Homo sapiens: one gene and its partner. The protein of the gene in region 1 purifies or fractionates together with the protein of each later gene. This does not show direct contact. Each region holds a gene or a part of one and is shown on either strand. Other genes may lie near its edges.

Region 1 (8,790 bases):
GTAATTTTTTATGGTGCAAAAAGAATTCATGAATGCATTCATTCTCTCATTTACTGAACGATATTCAGTAGAAAACTGTTGAAAATATTTCAAGTAGAAGATGTGAGAAATGTCTTTGAAATGCTTTAATTCCTGTCTTATCAATGACAATAAAAGATCCACATGAGAATAGTGCCCAAACTCATGACTGATGCCCAGTAACTTGTTAAATGAATGGATAAATGAGTCAGTCAACCAGTTACTCAGGTAATTAAACACAGAAAGATACATCCCCTTATTCAGGACTCAGGGTAATCCCACAGAGGTACTAAAATATAAAAAATGTTTATCATGTGTTAACATTCTCCTTGGAAACATGTTTGCATTTTGAGCACTTCAGCTATAAAATACAGCATCTTGGTTATGCACCTAGACCTAAAGGAGTGGTTTTCATACTTTAATGAGATTAGAATCACATGGGGTGATTGTTAAAAATGTAGGACCTCATCCCCAAAGATTGATTCAGTAGATCTGCAGTGGGGTTTGATAATATTTTTCTGCCATGTGATTCTAAATGCAAATAGTTAAAAACACATGCACTAAAAGATACTAGCATCTCTTATTTAGGCTTCAACTTTTTCATCGTTTACTTAATGTATTTGTAAATGATATGGTTTTTTGTGAAACTTAATTAAAAATCTGTCTCCTCAGATAAGTTGGTAAGAACACTGTGCATGGCATAGTGAAATACTTTAGGTAAACAATGATGACTGTTAAGGTAATTCATATTACATAGGCGTAATCCAATAAAAACCAGGGGACACGTATTCCAGACACTGATGAAAACATTAGATTGACATTTGGTTAGCTGCACCATTTTTACATCAGCAGTCTATATGAGAAAAGCATGAGTATTCCAGGAAAGGTGGGCAAACGACTTGGTTTCTGATAGTTTCAGTTCGCGTTTGCTTGTATTAAAATATAAAATAAATTATTCTTGGCTGAAAGTTTTATTCTGTGAGGTAATCATTACACAAGTTTCTAATTTGGGCCACTAATTGTTGTATGTTTCCATTACTTACACAGAAGAATCTAATAACCCTTTTCATGTAGGCAGAAAAAAATATAATACCCATTGACTACAAAAAATAGAACGTTTAAAGCTAAATGAGGATTAGAATGACAGTGAAAAGCATGCCTATGTTGGGATTTTTTAGGTGTTTAGTGGATTTAACATGATGGGATAAAAGACTTTCTATTCAGAAAAGATTAGGAAAGAAGATGCTTTTAATAATGTAGGAAAGTCTTATCGGTAGGATTATTTTAATTTTGCATTTTTGTAGAGGATGTTTGGCTACTGCTTGTGTGACTTTTTTTACTATCTCCAGAAAATTGCCAAGAAACCTTAAGAGTTTTCACATAGAGGTTTATGTAGGTTGTTTTTTTATATCTGTAATAAACTTTAGAATGGCTCTTAAAAATGTAGTCACATCTTCATTTAAACAATTTAATACACTATGGCTCTGTCAATTATTAATCTATGTGATTAGAGTTTTGATATGGTATAGAGTATAGTAATTGCTATATTAAGAACAGTGGTTCACACCTGCAGTCCCAGCTACTTGAGAGACTTAGGTGGGAGGATCACTTGAGCAGGGAGGTTGAGGCTGCAGTGAACTGAGATTGCACCACTGCACTCCAGACTGAGTGACAGAGGGAGACCCTATCTCAAGTAGTAATAATAATAATAATAATAACATAAATGAAATAAGGTAATGGCTAATTTGGTGTATTGACAAGCTTGTTTCAAAGTTGTGTCTATTTTCCTGTCCTCTTGGGTTTGCACAGTCATTCATGGGAATGAATAAATGACAACGTGGAAGTGGATTTAATGGTTCTGTCTTTGGTCATTCCTATTCAGATTTTATTTTATGTTTTTATAAGAGATCAAGTGGTAGATTCTTAGTTCTGTTACCTATAGAAGCATGCTTGTGTTTTCTGGCCTGAATAGTAATGATGGAGTCTGCCTTTTAGGCTTCAAAGAATGCTCCCATTTGATCCTAACAGAAATACTATGAGGTAGCTAAAGTAGGTGTCCTTTTCTTGAATTTTTTTGGAAGGAGAAAAATTGATCAAATATGTACAATTATTGAATAACCAAATGTATTAGTCCATTTTCACGCTGCTGATAAAGACATACCCAAGACTGGGCAATTTACGAAAAGAAAGAGGTTTATTGGACTTACAGTTCCACATGGCTAGGGAGACCTCACAATCATGGCAGAAGGCGGAAAGCACGTTTTGCATGGTGGCAGACAAGAAAAAAGGTTGCACAGGGACATAACCCTTTTAAAACCATCAGATGTCATGAGACTTATTCCCTATCTTAAGAACAGCTCAGGAAAGATATGCCCCCATGATTCAATTACCTCCCACCGGGTCTGTCCCACAACATGTGGGAATTCAAGATGAGGTTTGGGTGGGGACACAGCCAAACCATATCACCAACTGAAACTAGAAATCACATCATCCGATATTTATCTAGGGATTTTAATTGTACAATAAATTGACTACAGTTACATTTACCTAATCACCAGAATTATGAGGATTACAAAGTAGATATTTTAATCCTTTTTAAATGAAAATAGAGATAATTTCTTTACATTAAATTATAAACTCATGATCAGCGATGCTGTGGACACTTTGATCAAAGTGATTGATCAAAGTGATTATCTAGGATTACTTTTTAAAGTAATACTTAGAAAAATTTAGCTTGTTAGTTCCAGCTTAATAGAAAGTGAAGTCCATGCTGCTTATTGGTGAACATGTAGCTATATGTCTTTGAATACGTTTCTTAATATTGGCCATTAACTATTAAATTGACTTCTCAAAATGTTAAAATGGACAAAGTCCCTGTTTCTTGTTATAATTAGCTTTCTGTTCCTGCTTTTGATTGTTATTCTCCAAGATGACTGAGTTAATTATACAAATATGGTGAACACAAAACATATTACCTCAAAGGGATATCTCCTTAAAGAATATGCAAATGACCCTCCACTTTTGAATAAATTCAAATATTGACATTAATCTCCTTAGAATCCCAGTGCTTTAACTTGAGAGCATTGCTGAGTTTAATACTACTTATAAAACTTACGTTATTTTGACCATTTTGAAATATAGTTTTTCATGTATTAAAAAATTAGAGATCAAATGACAGGATTATTCATATTATCCAGATTTGTATGGTGTGTTGTAAGCTATGCATTATTTTATTCAGTATTCATGACCTTTTAAATAGATGTTAATAGTGTTTTCATTGTGAAGATTCCTTAGCTAGTAAAGTGATAGGAACTGGAACTCACAATTTTTGACTCCAAACCCTATTGTCTGTCCGCTATATTATTGCTATTTAGTTAACAAAAGAAGGTTTATTTAGAATTAATTTACATTTTCTTGGGAAATTTTCCTGATTATGTTTTCTTTTGATTATTTAAAGTTTATAATTATTCCATAGATGTTTTTCTGGAAATAGAACTTAAATGTTTTCAGTGAATATCTTCATTGTCAAATCTTGCCTTAGTATTTGTAAAGTAAAAGGCTCATGTTGAATCACATTATATGTGTAGCTAAATAGATCTTATTGTTTTAATGCAGGTTTGAAAACCATTTATCAAACAATATTTTTTTTCTTTTGTGACAGAGTCTTGCTCTGTTGCCCAGGCTGGAGTGCAGTGGCACGATCTTGGCTCACTGCGACCTCCACTTCCCAGGTTCAAGCAATTCTCGTGCCTCAGCCTCCTGAGTAGCTAGGATTACAGGCGCCTGCCACCATGCCCAGCTAATTTTTGTATTTTTAGTGGAGATGAGGTTTCACCATGTTGGCCAGGCTGGTCTCGAACTCCTGTCCTCAAGTGATCCACCCACCTCAGCCTCCCAAAGTACTGGGATTACCAGCTTGAGCCACCGCGCCCAGTCAGAAAATATTTTTATGTGTTGACCCAGTACATACACATATACCAATAAATCTGTACATTTATCTGCCAAAAATAATGAAAAATGCCTATAGTCATGGATATATTCTTGGAATATTACTTGTAATATGGAAATACTGGAAATTATCTAGATATCCTCCAAAAGAGTTACCTGTATTATGTACACTATTTGATGAAATTTGATGCAGCCATCAAAAGTATTCACTCTGGAAATTATTTAGCAAAATGAGAAATGCTTATGCTGCATTGTTGAGCATAAAAGATCACCAAATAATAGCTATACTATAATTACAATTATTTTTAAAAATGTGTGCATACATACAGAAGACTGGATGAGAAGAGAAAAATGAACCACAGTGTTGTTAGAATTTTCAGATTTAATTTTATATTCTGTTTCAAATTCTCTGTATGATAAATGTTATAATTTCTTATCCTGTTTTTAATTATGAGATTAAATTTGTGAAATGTTGTCAGTTATAATTTACTAATGTAATAGTATGTCTAAGAGATTTATTTTGGGTATCAGCATAGTCTAAAGTGTCCTTGAGTTTATCAGAGAAACCAGATCAAACTCATATTGAGCAACCAAGGGATAGATCCCATTTTATTGATGATGTCTATTAGGGAAAATGTGTTTTAGAAGGTTTGGGAAGTTCATGTTCCCATAGGTACCCCACTATTCAGATGCATATCTAATGCTTGGTAAATTTCCAGTCCCACTGGCCTGTAACTCTCACCAGTACAAGTTTTCACAAGAGATTTTCTCTTCCTTATTTTTTCACAAGCAAGAATAATGTGAGAGTAGCTATTACAGTATGTTTCTGTCCTATTTCTTAGGAGAAACCGTAAGCTGTAAAAAAAAATAAAAATATGAAAGAGTCAAACATGCATATTATGCAAAAGCAGTTGACTAAGTTTTTTTTAACCTCAGAAAAGGTTGGTTTTATGACACATTCTGAGCTAATTCTTAGTTATTAAGTCTGCTTAAATATTTTTAGAATTCTTTCTAAATGTTCCACAGGAGAGTAAAGAACATGAAATTATAATAAACCAATCCTTAACCTGTAGAAACCCCCCCCCCCACACACACACACATGCAAATACATACACACAGAACCTAAATAAATTCAAGTCTTCTTTCTTGTTAATGCGGCAAAGAGTAACCTAAATTGGAAAAGTAGAGTATTAGTTCCCTGCTGCCAATTCATTTTGAGCATATTCAAGAAAGCAGGAATTACTGAGGGAGCAAATAGCAGCTGAGAGAGATCACTTATAGACCTTCTGCAAGTTTCCTGTTTGGTGATGCCTACATTGACATAGACTTGCTTAAACAGAAAAGTAGCCCTTTCGTTTATGCAGTAGTATATATTTAGCATACACACACACACACACACACACAACTTTTTATCATTATTTAATGTAGGCACATCACTCTTCCTGAGTATAGTGATGAGCCTCACATACAATAAATTTTGATTAGGTACTGGGTACTGTTTTAGCAAGCTCCATAGCTGATGCTAATGTTCAGCCAGAGAGGAGGATAATTATTCTCGGTAACAGCTTGATCATTTTTTGCTTTTAAGTTATAAATCTTGGTAATACTTTTTTTCTTATGTTCAATAAGATAAATATGCTAATAAAAAACCAGAATCTTGAATAACTTTTTAAGTCATTTTTGTGATCTTAATAACTGAGTGTAGTGGTGAATGACACTGGCTCATTGTATGTATTTGGAACACAAAACTTTAGCTAGGTTGAGGTTTCCAAGTAGTGCAAGATATCATTTATAATGCTCTTTTTTAAGATGTAGCATGATACAGATTATAGTATCTCCTTCTTTAAGAAACACTTTCCTCAATAATAGGATATGAATATAATGTGGGAAAACACCCAGATTTAAATGCAATCATTGTATTTATACAAATCCAAGAAAACCTTTGCTTCCTAAGTCGTAGTAGGGTTACAGTTTTTCTTTCTTGCTTAACTTCAAAATAAAGTGCTTAGTATCTGCGTTTGCTATTTGTGAAAAGATACTTGAACAATTAAAAACTGTTTCCTTGAAGCTTGAAGTAAGAGCACGAAAATATTAAAAGGACATTCTGTGTTTTAGATGGCCCTCTTGTGGTAAAAGGGTCAAAGTATCCTGAATGAAGACTGCTTTTAAATAGTAAGAGTCAAAATTGCGCAGATGAATGAGAAATAATGTTCTCGCCTTTTCCCTAAGATCTCCGTGGCAAAATTAACAGAATTAGCAAATATAAAACAAACAGACATAACAAAACCAATCTTTTTTTACTGCTTTATATAGCTACCAAGTGAATCTCTAAAGATCAAAAAAATAACTCCTGGAAACATTTTCATAAAAAGCTATCAAATTTGATTTTGTATATTTTTCACTTGGAAATAATTTTATATTTACACGAAAGTTGCAAAAATGGACCCAAGAGTTTCTGTCTACGCTTTACTGATCTAAATATTAATATCTTACATAACTGTAGAATCCCTCTTAAGACCAGAAAAATTAACATAGATATGCTGCTGTTTAACCAATCTACAGACTTTAATCAAATTTTACCAATTGTCCTCCCAATATTCTTTCTGTGACTCCAGGATCCTCCAGCTTGTGATAATATCTCAGTCTGTCTTGCATGACCTTGACACTTTGGGAGAGTACTAGTCGGTTATTAGTAAAATATCTTTCCATTCACTTCATCTGATGTTTCATCTTGATTAAATTCAGGCAGTACTACCTCTACTGTGATTGTGTGCCCTTCTCATTGTATCATATCAATAGATACACAACATCATTATGTCTCATTATTGGTGATATTAATTTTGATCACTTGGTTAAAGTGATGTTTTCCATGTTTCTTTACTGTGAAGTTATTATTTTTCCCTTTGCAATTAATAAGTTTATCAACACCATTTCAGATTGTATTTTTACCATAATTAACATTATACATGCATTTTCTTATGGACATTTATACTGAAATGGAGTTATAATTTGTAACTAAACTAGGAAATGCTGAAGTTACTTGTTGCCTTGTTTGAAAATCATTTTCCCTTTTCATCTATAGCCTTCTGTCACCAGTCTTGCACTTTAAGTTAAAATCTTCAGAAAGCTTCTTCTTCTTCATGTTGACTAAACCTCATGTACTTAATGACCTCATAGGTATGTCGAGAGTACCAACGTGGCAATTGCAACCGAGGAGAAAATGATTGTCGGTTTGCTCATCCTGCTGACAGCACAATGATTGACACCAATGACAACACAGTCACTGTGTGTATGGATTACATCAAAGGGAGATGCTCTCGGGAAAAGTGCAAATACTTTCATCCCCCTGCACATTTGCAAGCCAAGATCAAGGCTGCCCAATACCAGGTCAACCAGGCTGCAGCTGCACAGGCTGCAGCCACCGCAGCTGCCATGGTGAGTAGAGATATCAGCTCTCTCCTTGTTAGCAGTCAGAAAAGCAAAGTGAGCAACTATATCTGACTACAAGCTATTCATTTAGTAACCTTTTTAAAAAAATTGCTGAAGATATGTTTGTTCAGGTATCCCAGACAATATATAAAGAAGTTACTTTCACAGAAGTGAGGGTAACTCCTCAAATGGTTCAGATTGCTCCTACTCTTGGCCTAACTCTTAATCTGTCTTATTGTGGATGTAGGGTTTCTGAAATCTCTGCTTTGTAAAGAACCACCTGTCTCCTTTTCAACTTAACGATATTGCCATTTTCAGTCTTCTTATTTCTGTGTGCCATCTAATCAGCCATTGTTTTCCTTTGGTGTGTTCTTTTGCACATCAAGGCTCTTCTTTACATATATCTTGCTTTTAACAATAACATGATCTGGAACTATTTAGGAGAATTGTTCAACAAAATTGTTCTTAGAATTAGCTACAGGATTTTGAGTAGTATACTATCTAGATTGTCTGAAATAATATTGTGGCATAAACATAATAGTAACACTAGAGAAGCTTGACTATGCCATTATATAGACAGGAGAGAGACAGCAGTACTCAAGGAGTTAGAAATTGGATCATTAAGAATAGCTACTAAACTATATTCTCAAGGTAAATTTTAATGTGATCTAGTAGCTGATTTTAATGAGCCCATTCTTTGTTCTTTGCTTACCTGTTTTAATGTTGTCATTTTTTTACATAAATATATGACTTAAATCAATGAAATACTCATTTTAAAAGTCACTGTGTAGTATTTCATAACACAGTGAAATAATCACGAGAGAGATCTTTTCTGTGTTTATGGATACTTGAGCAAAAATACAGAAGGCAGACTCTCTCCTCCTCTCTTCCTTTCACTCTTTTTTTTTTCTGTTAGAGTATCTTGTTTGTAATTAACTACAAAGAGGAGTTATCCTCCCAATAACAACTCAGTAGTGCCTTTATTGTGCATGCTTAGTCTTGTTATTCGTTGTATATGGCATTCCGATGATTTGTTTTTTTATTTGTTTTTTCTCACCTACCCAAAAATGCACTGCTGCCCCCATGATGCACCTCTGCTTGCTGTTTATGTTAATGCGCTTGAACCCCACTGGCCCATTGCCATCATGTGCTCGCTGCCTGCTAATTAAGACTCAGTCGGCTGTCAAATCACTGAAGCGACCCCTCGAGGCAACCTTTGACCTGGTACTATGACCTTTCACCTTTTAGCTTGGCATGTAGCTTTATTGTAGATACAAGTTTTTTTTTTAAATCAACTTTAAAATATATATCCTTTTTTCTGTTATAGAGTTGTAAAGTACAATGAAAAAACTGAGTGTGGTTTCCTGACAAAATTAGTAGAAAGACTATAATCTA
Region 2 (13,090 bases), on another chromosome or scaffold:
ACAGAAATGTGGATTTTCAGAACTTTATTCATGGCAAAGAGAAAGAAAAGTAAAGACAGAATTTTGCCTTCATGATGGACCTCCTTATGCAAACGGTGACCCTCATGTTGGACATGCTTTAAATAAGGTAACTATAATTTAGGTTATGACACTTGAAAGAAAGTGTTTATGTAAATACTCTTTATAAATGTGTATTCTAATTATATGATAATTATGTAAATTTAGATTTGCACATAAAACTAAAACATTTTCATAGAAAGCAATATACAATTTTAGTACTGCATAAAAAAAATTGCTGCTATTTGCTTTGAGCTTAACGTTATATTAGTAAACATCATCTTATTCAGTGCATAATTATCGGGCGAGGCATTGTTCTAGAATCTGGGAATAGCAGTGGACAAAAAAAAGGTATGTCTTGGCCGGGCAGTATGGCTCATGCCTGTAATCAGTGCTTGGCCCACAGATATCAATAATTCATTATTTTTAAAATGCTTAGTAGAATTTCATTGAGAGAATATGTTAATACTACAATCTGTTCACTCATTTTTCAGTTCTTTATTTTTTGTAGATTTCAGTGGAAATTTTGGGGAGGAAGTGGGCTTAGGCATCTGTAGTTTCAAAACCAGGAATTTGGTCACTGAATGGGTCAATAGTGCTATTAAAGAGACCAGGCGCAGTGGCTCACGCCTGTAATCCCAGCCCTTTGGGAGGCCGAGGCAAGCGGATCACGAGGTCAGGAGATCGAGACCATCCTGGCTAACACGGTGAAACCCCGTCTCTACTAAAAATACAAAAAATTAGCCACGCATGGTGGCGGGAGCCTATAGTCCCAGCTACTCGGGAGGCTGAGGCAGGAGAATGCCGTGAACCCGGGAGGCGGAGCTTGCAGTGAGCCGAGATCGCGCCACTGCACTCCAGCCTGGGCAACAGAGCAAGATTCCGTCTCAAAAAAAAAAAAAAATCATGTTTTGTGATATAAATACAGAATAAAACTCTATTATTTCAAACCCTTTTGCAAGGAATGGAAGAGCCAACATTAACTGGATTAAGCAAAGAGAGAGAATTTACTGGCTTTTTTACTGTAGAGTCCAGATAGTTTTAGCCACCTGCATAGCTGGATCAGGAATTCACATAAAATTAAGAATTGGTTTCTGTCTCTCACTCTTTGCTACTTTAGTGACTGCCCCACCCCAGACCCCCAGCACATTTCCCAGTAGTTTCAGGCTTACATAATTCCACCTTCTCTTTCCCAACAGTTCTTTTTTCTTTTTTTTTTTTTTTTGAGACAGAGTCTTGTACTGTCGCCCGGACTGGAGTGCAGTGGTGCAATCTTGGCTCACTGCAATCTCCGCTTCCCGGGTTCAAGCGATTCTCCTGCCTCAGCCTCCCAAGTAGATGGGACTACAGGCGCCTGCCACCACGCCCGGCTAATTTTTTGTATTTTTAGTAGAGAGGGGGTTTCACTGTGTTAGCCAGGATGGTCTCGATCTCCTGACCTCGTGATCTGCCCGCCTCTGCCTCCCAAAGTGCTGGGATTACAGGCGTGAGCCACCACGTCTGGCCCCCAATAATTCTTATAAAAGTCCTGGAATTGAATCTCATTGGCCTGATTTGGGTCGCACATCTATTTCTGAATCAGTCATTGCAGACTTGGGGATAGAATATGTTAATGGCTACAGTGGATCACGTGTTCACTCTTGGAGCTGCAGCAGAGGGAGCCAGCTCCATGTGGATTGAGGACAAAGGAATAATTCCATAAAAAACAGTGGCATCTTTTGTTGTTGTTGTTCTTTGAGACAGAGTCTCACGCTGTCACCCAGGCTGGAGTGCAGTGGCGCAGTCTCGGCTCACTGCAAGCTCCGTCTCCCGGGTTCACGCCATTCTCCTGCCTCAGTCTCCCGAGTAGCTGGGACCACAGGTGCCTGCCACCATGCCCAGCTAATTTTTTGTATTATTAGTATTATTTTTTAGTAGAGACGTGGTTTCACCATGTTAGCCAGGATGGTCTCCATCTCCTGACCTCATGATCCACCCGCCTCGGCCTCCCAAAGTGCTGGGATTACAGGCGTGAGCCACTGCACCCGGCCAAAACAGTGGCATCTTACAAAACTATCTCTCACATGAAGAGAAACCTTCTTGAAGCCCTTAGCAAAGAGCATGGGCACTTTGGAACTAGGGAAGGACCAATTCTTGCTCTTCCTCACACATGCTAATTATAGTCTTGCTTGCTTTCTCCTCTTCCTAGAATGCATCACCAGAATATTCACATGGATCACCTCCTCATTTCTTTCAGATTCTGTTCAAATGTCATCTTACCAGGCTCTCTTGACTTCCCTCTAAAATGGTACCACCCCCAGCCCCTAAATGTCATTTTCTAACCCTATAATTTGCTTTTTTCTCCATAGTGTGTGATATGTTGGTATATATTCTGTGTTCCTCCATGAGAAAAAAGACCTTGTCGTTTTTGTTTACTACTATATTCTAGGTTCCTAGAAAAATTCTTGACATACAGTAGGCATTCAGATATTTATCCCTCAAACAAAGCAATGCATGAATATTAGAAAAATGAAAGGAACAGAGATAAATGACTCTTAAAAGTATGGAGGAACTTTTTTTGGGGAGAAGGAGGGTGGTGTTTGATACTGAGGAGTTAGTAAAATATTCCTATGATATTGCTACTATTCTTTTCACTAGAGGCTTCATATATTATATTTTATTATTACATTTAAGAATCCTTATTAGGTACACTGTTAATTATTAGTTCCAGTGATTGATTTCATCCTGTTCATATGACTGAAAGCAACACTATTCAGTAGAAATACAATGCAAGCGGCTGGGCGTGGTGGGTCTGGCCTGTAATCCCAGCACTTTGGGAGGCTGAGGCGGGCAGATCATCAGGTCAGGAGTTCGAGACCAGCCTGACCAACATGGTAAAACCCCCTCTCTACTGAAAATACAAAAAAATTAGCTGGGCATGGTGGCATGTGCCTGTAATCCAGCTACTTAGGAGGCTGAGGCAGGAGAATCACTTGAACCTGGGAGGCAGAGGTTGCAGTGAGCCGAGATTGTACCACTGTTCTCCAGCTTGGGCGACAGAGCGAGACTCCGTCTCAAAAAAAAAAAAAAAAAAAAGAAATAAATATAATGCAAGCTATAAATTTGTGCCACATAGGTAAGTTAAAATTTTTCTAGTGGCCCCAGAAAATAATGAAAAGAAACAAGTGAAATTAATTTTAATATTACATTTAACTCAACATATCTAAAGTATCATTTCAACATACAGTCGATGTAAAACATTTTTGAGATATATCACATTTTCGTAAAACATGTTTGAAATCAGGTATATATTTTATAATTTACATTACATCTGAATTCGGACTAGCACCAAAAATCACATGTGGCCAGTGGCTACTATATAAGATACCATTGTTTAGAGCATATATGCATCCATGTATTCATGTATTTGATAAATATTTATAGACTAGTGCCAGAAACCATTCGAAAGGCTGGAATTCATAGGTGAAGAGGACAGATGGGCTCTCTGATTTCATGGAGTTTATGTTTTACAGGGAAGAGACAAAAAAATAAGTAAACAATTTCCAAAGAGTTAAGTAGAAAGGAGGTTATTTATATGATGATTGATTTAAATAATATACCCAGAGTAAAGTGAACCAATCTTAAGTATGTATAGCTAGATGAATTTTTTTTAATGTGACAACCACTCAGATCACAAGGCTCCTTCCTGTTCATTAGTAAACAGTTTGAAATTAGAGTTTTTAAAGGGGGGAAGGGATGGGAGGAGAATATAATAATATCTTTTCTACTTTTGATAGGCATGGAAAGGAGGAAATTGTTTTCTGGACTACTGGGCTAGTGGTCAGAGCACTGTTTCCTCTTGGGAAGAAGGAAATTGAGCTTGGAGCCAAATCTATCCTTTGCCTTTGATTCCTCCATTCAACTATAGTAATATATTTTTTAAAAGGCTCTGCTGCCCTCTGGTATCTAAAATGAATTTAAAAAGGTAAATTGGTTCTAGAACTATACCTAATGAAGAGGTCTACTGTTTTAGTAAGGGTTTGTCAATGACAGAGTTAACCACAATATTCCATTCTCTGAGTACACTGTAAGTTCTGCAATGGTTTGATGATATTTCTTAGCTCAATATAAATAATATTAGACTATTTGTGTCAATAGTTTTTTTATGAGTTAATTTATACGTTTCCTTTCAAATTGCAGTTTTAAAAATGGTATTAAGTTTAAAAAAAAGAACATAAATTGTAGGCCAAATATTTTATGTATGAATGCTAATTATCATTTTATCTTTGCAGATTTTGAAATACATGGCCAAATATTTTATGTATGAATGATAATTATCATTTTATCTTTGCAGATTTTGAAAGACATAGCCAATCGATTCCATATGATGAATGGCTCCAAAATACATTTTGTGCCCGGCTGGGATTGTCATGGGTTGCCCATTGAAATAAAAGTATTATCAGAACTTGGTAGAGAAGCTCAGAATCTTTCAGCTATGGAAATTAGAAAGAAAGGTAAATAATCTGTATTTCTGTTTTAAAATGATATTTGTAAACACTCAGGTCCTTGAAATAGTCAGAACTTTACCAAAGGAACCTTTTGTTTGGGTTTCGTTTGCTTATAATAAGATCTATTGGAAACGCCTTTCTGTCACAGAAAATTCAGATTTTATTTCATTGATTTTTGTAAGAACTTATGTTTGGATATTGAAGGAAAGACTTTGTGAGCATTTCTGATTGCATTCTCAGTTTCTTAATGTTCATATTTTAAAAAACTATTTTTTGGTAAATTCTTTTTTCTGCTTTCCTCAAGGGGGCTTGTTGACTGATTTTAGGTGTTAAGCCAAAATTCAATTCTAAAATACATATATTTTACATTAATCTTTTATTTGATCCTTTTTCTTCAGTCGACTGGGCCAAGGGAGGATTCTCTTTTTCTTATATGTTATACTATTGTACATTTGGATGTAACTGTGAAGATTTTTTTACTTCCTTGTGAAACCTATTATCATTGGCTTAGATTTGATATTCTGATTAATTTTTTGTGTATAATGAAATGAAAATTGTTATCTGACCTTTTCTTAAATTAAGAAACAATAAGGAATAATTTTTCCAGTTTATTTGTCCTAAATATGAGGTCATTGTATAAAGTCTGGAAAATACAGAAGACAGTAATAAAATTTTAACTTTTGCAATTCCAGTTAATTTTAGAATTTGTTGTAGGTATCTTCTGAACACTGTTGACCTTCAAATTATTTTTCTATTAAAAAATTTTTATAGGCTGGGCACAGTGGCTCATGCCTGTAATCCTAGCACTTTGGGAGGCTGAGGGAGGTGGATCGATCACCTAAGGTCAGGAGTTTGAGACCAGCCTGGCCAACATGGCAAAACCCCGTATCTACTAAAAATACCAAATAATTAGCCAGGTATGGTGGCTCACGCCTGTAGTCCCAGATACTTGGGAGGCTGAGGCACGAGAATTGCTTGAACCTGTGTGGCAGAGGTTACAGTGAGCTGAGATCCGCCACTGCATGCCAACCTGGGCAACAGAGCAAGACTCCATCTCAAAAAAAAAAAATTTTGTGCTCGGGCGCCGTGGCTCACGCCTGTAATCCCAGCACTTTGGGAGGCTGAGGCGGGTAGATCACGAGGTCAGGAGATCCAGACCATCCTGGCTGACACAGTGAAACCCCGTCTCTACTAAAACTACAAAAAAATTAGCCGGGCGTGGTGGCGGGCGCCTGTAGTCCCAGCTACTCAGGAGGCTGAGGCAGGAGAATGGCGTGAACCCGGGAGGCAGAGGCTTGCAGTGAGCCGAGATCATGCCACTCGCGCCACTGCACTCTAGCCTGGGTGACAGCGAGACTGTGTCTCAAAAAAAATTTGCATTCTAAACTGTCTGTAGCATTTGCATTTAGAGAGATACATGCTAAACCATGTTTAAGAATTCGAATTCATTGGTTTTTTAAAATCTTTTTTTCGTCTTTTTTTTAGCTAGATCATTTGCTAAAGCAGCCATTGAGAAACAGAAATCAGCATTTATTCGTTGGGGAATAATGGCAGATTGGAATAATTGCTACTATACATTTGATGGGAAGTATGAAGCCAAACAGTTGAGAACTTTTTACCAAATGTATGATAAGGTAAAGAAGTATTTTTTCTCTTTGAGTAGGTTTTAGTATGCGTTACAAGATTCTACTTTTAACATCATATTTTTGTCTTTTATAGGGCTTGGTTTATCGATCTTACAAACCTGTGTTTTGGTCTCCGTCATCTAGGTATATATGCATTTTTCGGTAATTAAAAGGGAGAAATTTGTGAGGCTTCCAAGTATTTATGTTTAATATTTTTAACCCTTAGGACTGCATTGGCTGAAGCAGAACTTGAATATAATCCTGAGCATGTCAGTCGTTCAATATATGTAAAATTTCCTCTCTTAAAGCCTTCTCCAAAATTGGCATCTCTTATAGGTAAGATTTATTCATAGCTTGAGTGTACCAAAGTTATAGAATTATCCCATTTGCTAACATATTTACAATTGTATTTTCACAGATGGTTCATCTCCTGTTAGTATTTTGGTCTGGACCACACAACCTTGGACGATTCCAGCCAATGAAGCTGTTTGCTATATGCCTGAATCAAAGTGGGTATATTATTGCATTTTTTGTTTTATACACAAATAGAATGTATTCCATTATTAACATTATTTTGAATTTATTTTATCCTGTTTATTATTGTAAAATTTAATGAATTATAACTTAGTTATTATGTTCATATAGATTTTATTAACCTTTAGGTGATCCTTTTTATGACCTTATCCAGCTTTTCGGGAAAATGAAATAGAAGTATAAGTTACAAAGTGTTTTGAAAATAGTACAGTTTGATCTTGAAGTCAGTTTTTTCTTTTTTCTTTTTTTTTTTGGAGACCGAGTTTTGCCTTTTGTTGCCCAGGCTGGAGTACAGTGGCATGATCTTGGCTCACCACAACCTCCACCTCCCGGGTTCAAGCAATTTTCCTGCCTCAGCCTCCCGAGTAGCTGGGATTATGGGATTACAGGCATGCGCCACCACGCCAGGCTAATTTTGTATTTTTAGTAGAGATGGGGTTTCTCTATGTTGGTGAGGCTGGTTGCAAACTCCCAACCTCAGGTGATCCACCTGCCTTGGCCTCCCAAAGTGCTGGGATTATAGACATGAGCCACCGCGCTGGCCTGAAGTCAGTTTTTTCTAAAATGATTATTTAAAAATTAAAATGATATCTGTGGCTTTTCTTGTTTCATTATTAGTAATTTCTCCTAAAATTTTATGTTAGGTATGCTGTTGTGAAATGTTCTAAGTCTGGAGACCTCTACGTACTGGCGGCAGATAAAGTAGCATCTGTTGCTTCTACTTTGGAAACAACATTTGAGACTATTTCAACACTTTCAGGTGAAGATTTTTAGATATCTGACAACATAGTCATCAAAGTATTGGGCTGACTTGAATTTACTACTTTGCTGAACTGCATATTTTGAATTGAAACAGATATGGCCTCTACCTTTCTAGAATACATTTTACATTGATTACACTAAAGGAGAATATACATTAAGCATGATAGGAGTATAGAAAAATATGAATATTGATAAATGTACAACAGGTAAAACTAATTTCTGGCAATATCCAGTAGTTACTTGGTAAAATTTTATGCAAAATTAATTTTTAAAATTGTTTTTATCTGTTTTAATAAAAGTAGCAAGAAAGGAAATGCATATACTTATTTTTCGATACATAATTTTAATAAAGGATTGAATAAGTTCTGAAAATTATTCAGAAAGCAGTTCTTCTATCAAAGGAATTTTATTTTATTTTATTTTTTAAAGAGACAGGGTCTCATGCTGTTGCCCACTGCTGGAATGCAGTGGTCCAGTCAGCTCATTGCAGCCTCAAACTCCCGGGCTCAAGCAATCCTCCTGCCCTGGCCACCCAAGTAGCTGGGACTATAGGCACATGCCACTGCACCCGGCTAATTTTGAAAAAATATTTTACAGAGATGAATTCTTGTTGTGTAGCCCAGACTGGTCTGGAATTCCTGGGCTCAAGTGATCTGCCTGCCTTGGCCTGCCAAAGTGCTGGGATTAAAGGCGTAAGCCACTGTGCCTAGCCCAAAATAATTCTTTGTGAGCTATAATTTGGGACTTTTGAGGTAGTGACTGCTTTGAAATATAATTATGGAAGTCTAGGGAAGTTTAAAATTAGCTTTTTGTTGTTGTTGTTCTTCATTTTGTTTTGAGACGTGGTCTTGCTCTGTTGCCCAGGCTGGAGTGCAGTGGTGCCATCTTGGCTCACTGCAGCCTCTGGATCCTAGGCTCAAGTGATCTTCCTGCCTCAGCCTCTTGAGTAGCTGGGACTACAAGTGTGTGCCACCATGCTGGACTAATTTTTAATTTTTTTGGTAGAGATGAGGTCTTGCTACATTGCCCAGGCTGGTCTTGAACTCCTGGCCTCAAGTGATCCTCCTGCTTTGGTCTTCCAAAGTGCTGGGATTATGGGCATGAGCCACTGTGCCTGGACTAAAATTCTATTTTATTTTATTTTATTTTTAAAGAGATGAGGTCTCACTATGTTGCCCAGGCAGATCTTGAACTCCTGAGCTCAAGTGTTCCTCCTGCCTCTGCCTCCCAAAGTGGTAGGATTATAGACGTGAGCCACCATGCCTGGGCTAAAATTATCTTTGATCCTTAGGTATGATATATCTTTTAATTTCTTGCTAAAAAATCTATCACATGAATAAAGATACAAAAACTGCCTAGAAAGACTGCCTAGCTAAATAGGAAAGCCCTCTAAATTAATCAGTTCAGATACAAGCCAATGAGAAGTTTAAACAACCTTAACAAAAATAAAAAGATTTTTATGTCAGAGGCAGGAAAGGAGCTTAAGAATTTTGAAGACCATTTGGTCCTCTTTGGTGCAATAGGGTAATAAAAATAAAAACCAAGATAATAATTTACTTCACACCCTCTCTCACTGTGTTGCCCAGGCTTGTTTCAAACTCCTGGGCTCAAGCAATCTTCCTGCCACAGCCTCCCAAAGTGCTGCAATTACAGACATGAGCTACTGCACCCAGCCCCCTGCTCTTTTATAAATGCAGAGGATATTAAAGACTTCATTGTCAAGTTATACATTATCATAGAAGCTAAAAATCACAAGATTTTTGAAAGTGTTAAGGTTGAATTTAAAGATCTTTTGTCTAGATAGCATAATTGTTTCAAATTCTTACTATCAGATAATTATTGAGTTGCTATTTGAGTCACCATATTGTGGAGGAGTATATATATTATCCCTGTCAAAATAAGCTGGTGTCACGTAGCTACTACTTATTAAAGTAGTAGGAATGTTGAAGAGCTAAAAATGAAGTAATTTGTATGGGGTAGGTTTTCTTTCCGGAAAAAAATGAATTATTTCTTATCAATTACTTAGAGATCATTTTGGGAGGGTGGTGAGGGAGAATATTAAGTGGTAGATGCAGTAAGTATCAAAACACTTAAACTACATTAACTCTGTTTATTCTCACAGAAACCCTCTGAGGTGGGAACCATAATTATCTGCATTTTATAGATTATAGAAGGTCACAGAACAAGTTAAAGGGGAAGCTGGAATTTAAGCCTAGCCAGTATTGTTCTAGATTCTGCACATTTAACCTGATACTCTATTGCTAAGCTTAAGGAGATAGATTTGCCATATAAAATGATTCTTAATAGTGGTTTTCTTTCCCCACAGGTGTAGATTTGGAAAATGGTACTTGCAGTCATCCATTAATTCCTGATAAAGCCTCTCCTCTTTTACCTGCAAATCATGTGACCATGGCAAAAGGAACGGGATTGGTTCACACAGCCCCAGCTCATGGTATGGAAGACTACGGTGTAGCGTCTCAGCACAACCTGCCCATGGTACTGTTCCTCTTTTATCATTTTTAATTATTCATCTTAATAAAAGGAAATGATAAATTCTAACCAACATCTTCATTTTTTAAAAATGATGACTTTTGTCATCATAATTGTGAAATGCTCAGGTTTGTGTAGTACTCTAAAGTTTCATTAATTCGTACTAATTGAAAAAGATTTCCCAGAATTAATAGAAAATTAGCACTTTAGAATTGAAGAATATATATCATGGGGCACTTTTAAAATACTTTTTTTCTAGTATCAAGTCACATAGACAAATTACTTTTATTCCCTGAAAAAGCCTGTTTGTTTTAGCTAAACAGTCCTTTCTACATTTACTTTACATACTTCAGTTACTTAGCAAGTATTTCCGTTTAGTTAAAAGGTGAGTCAGAAAGGGAACAACTGTGTATATAGGCATAGATTTGGAAACAATAGAGACCACTCAAAGATGTTTTAATATATTTTGTTACTTTTGTTATTAAAGTTTATGGATATGCTTCAATAACACATTTTGGCTTTGGTGATTTAAATGTATAAAATTCACAAATTCCTATTTCCTTTTCTTTTCTTTTCTTTTTTTTTTTTTTTGAGAGGGAGTCTTGCTCTGTCGCCCAGGCTGGAGTGCAGTGGTGTGGTATGATCTCGGCTCACTGCAACCTCTACCTCCAGGGTTCAAGCGATTCTCCTGCCTCAGCCTCCCGAGTAGCTGGGACTACAGGTGCACACCACCATGCCTGGCTAATTTTTGTATTTTTAGTGGAAGTGGGTTTCACCATGTTGGCCAGGCTAGTCTCAAATTCCTGACCTCAAGTGATCTGCCCACCTCGACCTCCCAAAGTGCTGGGATTATAGGCCTGAGTGCCGCGCCCGGCCAAGTACCTAGAATTTCAATGTAGAAAAAGACCAGGCTATACTGAGATGTTTTTATATATATTGTTTTGCCAGATATTGTCATAAGAGAAAATGTCTTGATATTTTAATTGTTCAAAATGATACTTTATAGGATTGTCTAGTGGACGAAGATGGAGTTTTCACAGATGTTGCAGGTCCTGAACTTCAAAACAAGGCTGTCCTTGAAGAGGGAACTGATGTGGGTGAGCATCATATCTGTTGATATCATACATGTTTTCTGAAAAGTAGGTAGCAGTAACCTTTGCTACCTATTTTCCCTCCTTATACTTTAACAGAAACAAAAAAATAAATTATGTCTTGTTTTGCCATATGTTTTAAAATGGAGTTTGGGACTTTTTCATCTTTTGCTTTGAAGCTGCTTTATTTAAGCAAGTCAGGGCAGTCAACAGGGAGTGAAGTTATTTTAGGGCTATGGAGATAATAATCAGCAGTATTACTTTTGTGGAAGGATACAATCAAGATCAGGGCTGGATGTTGACTGTAAATTACACATTCCCTACTCACTTTTTAACCCTTGTAAATAACTGACCTATATGGCATGATTTATGTATTAGAATCTTGGGAATCCTCCAGCCTTGAATTGTCTTTCTGTCTTCCTTTACAGATTCAGAGACCAAGTGCTATGAAAACCTTTCTTTGCCCACACTAAGACTAAGGCTATTTAGACCTGATATATTACTTTTCTAGGGCTACTGTAAAAAATCACCGTAAACTTGGTAGTTTGAAACAACAGAAATTTATTCTCTCAAGTGCTGGAAGCTAGAAGTCTAAATTCATCGTACTGGCAGGACCATGTTTTCCTGAAGGTTTTATGGGAGAATCCTTACTTGCCTCTTTCTAGCTTTTGGTGGCTCCTGGAAATCCTTGGCATTCCTTGGTTTATAACTGCGTTACTCCACTCTCTGCCTGTCTTGTCACATGGCCTTCTTTAGATCTTACTTGTTTTTTCGAGACAATCTCACTTTCTCACTCAGGTTGATGTGCAGTGGCATGCTTTCAGCTCACTGCCACCTCTGTGTCCTGGGTTCAAGTGATTCTTGTGCCTTAGCCTCCTGAGCAGATGGGATTACAGGCATACACCACCACACCCAGCTAATTTTTTTTTTTTTGAGACACAGTCTCACTCTGTTGCCCAGGCTGGAGTGCAGTGGTGTGATCTCAGCTCACTGCAACCTCTGCCTCCTGGGTTCAAGCAATTCTCTTGCCTCAGCCTCCCAAGTAGCTGGGATTACAGGATACACACCACTACTCCTGGCTAATTTTTGTATTTTTAGTAGAGATGGGGTTTCACCATGTTGGCCAGGCTGGTCTTGAACTCCTGACCTCAGGTGATCTGCCCACCTTAGCCTCCCAAAGTGCTGGAATTACAGGCGTGAGCCCTCACTGTGTCAGGCCATAATTTTTTTATTTTTTATTTTATTTTTATTTTTTTTTTAAGACGGAGTCTCGCTCTGTTGCCCAGGCTGGAGTACAGTGGCACGATCTTGGCTCACTGCAAGCTCTGCCTCCTGGGTTCATGGGTTCTCCTGCCTCAGTCTCTCGAGTAGCTGGGACTACAGGCGCCTGCCACCATGCCCAGCTAATTTTTTGTATTTTTAGTAGAGATGGGGTTTCACCATATTAGCCAGGACGGTCTCGATCTCCTGACCTCGTGATCCACCTGCCTTGGCCTCCCAAAATGCTGGGTTTACAGGCATGAGCCACCGCACCCGGCCTATTTTTTATTTTTAATAGAGACAGGGTTTCACCATGTTGGCCAGGCTGGTCTCAAACTCCCAGCCCCAAGTGATCCACCTGCCTAGGCCTCCCAAAGTGTTGGGATTATAGGTGTGAGCCACCGTACCCAGCCACCTTCTTTAGGTCTTAAATGTCTCTCTGTGAATCCTCTTTTTTTTTTTTTTTTTTTTTTTTTTATTGGAGGGACTGGTTCTTTATTTCAAAAAGACACTTGTCAATATTCAGTATCAAAGCAGGTGGACTATTGATTTCTGTTTCTCCCAATCGGCCCCAAAGAGACTATATCAAAGGACAGTACGTTTTAAGCCAGTATGCTGCAGGATGTACACCTGACAGACTTTACAGAAACCTTATCGGAAAGTGGGGATTGGGTAGGGAAAGAAACTTTAAAAGATCAGCAAACTGCCAGCCCGGCCAGGCACGGTGGCTCACCCCTGTAATCCCAGCGCTTTGGGAGGCTGAAGCGGACATATCACGAGGTCA

The links.
Region 2: the proteins of MBNL1 (region 1) and IARS2 purify together in Homo sapiens (affinity purification with mass spectrometry; 2 studies listed by BioGRID and IntAct, with this or other methods). This does not show direct contact.

Annotation. Positions count from the first base shown.
Region 1 is NC_000003.12:152,438,139-152,446,928, forward strand, and holds part of MBNL1 (muscleblind-like protein 1), read left to right. Parts: intron 1-7,143; coding exon 7,144-7,401; intron 7,402-8,565; coding exon of another isoform or gene 8,566-8,619; intron 8,620-8,790. UniProt on the Homo sapiens protein: Mediates pre-mRNA alternative splicing regulation. Acts either as activator or repressor of splicing on specific pre-mRNA targets. Inhibits cardiac troponin-T (TNNT2) pre-mRNA exon inclusion but induces insulin receptor (IR) pre-mRNA exon inclusion in muscle.
Region 2 is NC_000001.11:220,096,100-220,109,189, forward strand, and holds part of IARS2 (isoleucine--tRNA ligase, mitochondrial precursor), read left to right. Parts: intron 1-4; coding exon 5-127; intron 128-4,390; coding exon 4,391-4,550; intron 4,551-6,029; coding exon 6,030-6,178; intron 6,179-6,263; coding exon 6,264-6,313; intron 6,314-6,395; coding exon 6,396-6,505; intron 6,506-6,587; coding exon 6,588-6,678; intron 6,679-7,347; coding exon 7,348-7,463; intron 7,464-9,791; coding exon 9,792-9,961; intron 9,962-10,961; coding exon 10,962-11,052; intron 11,053-13,090.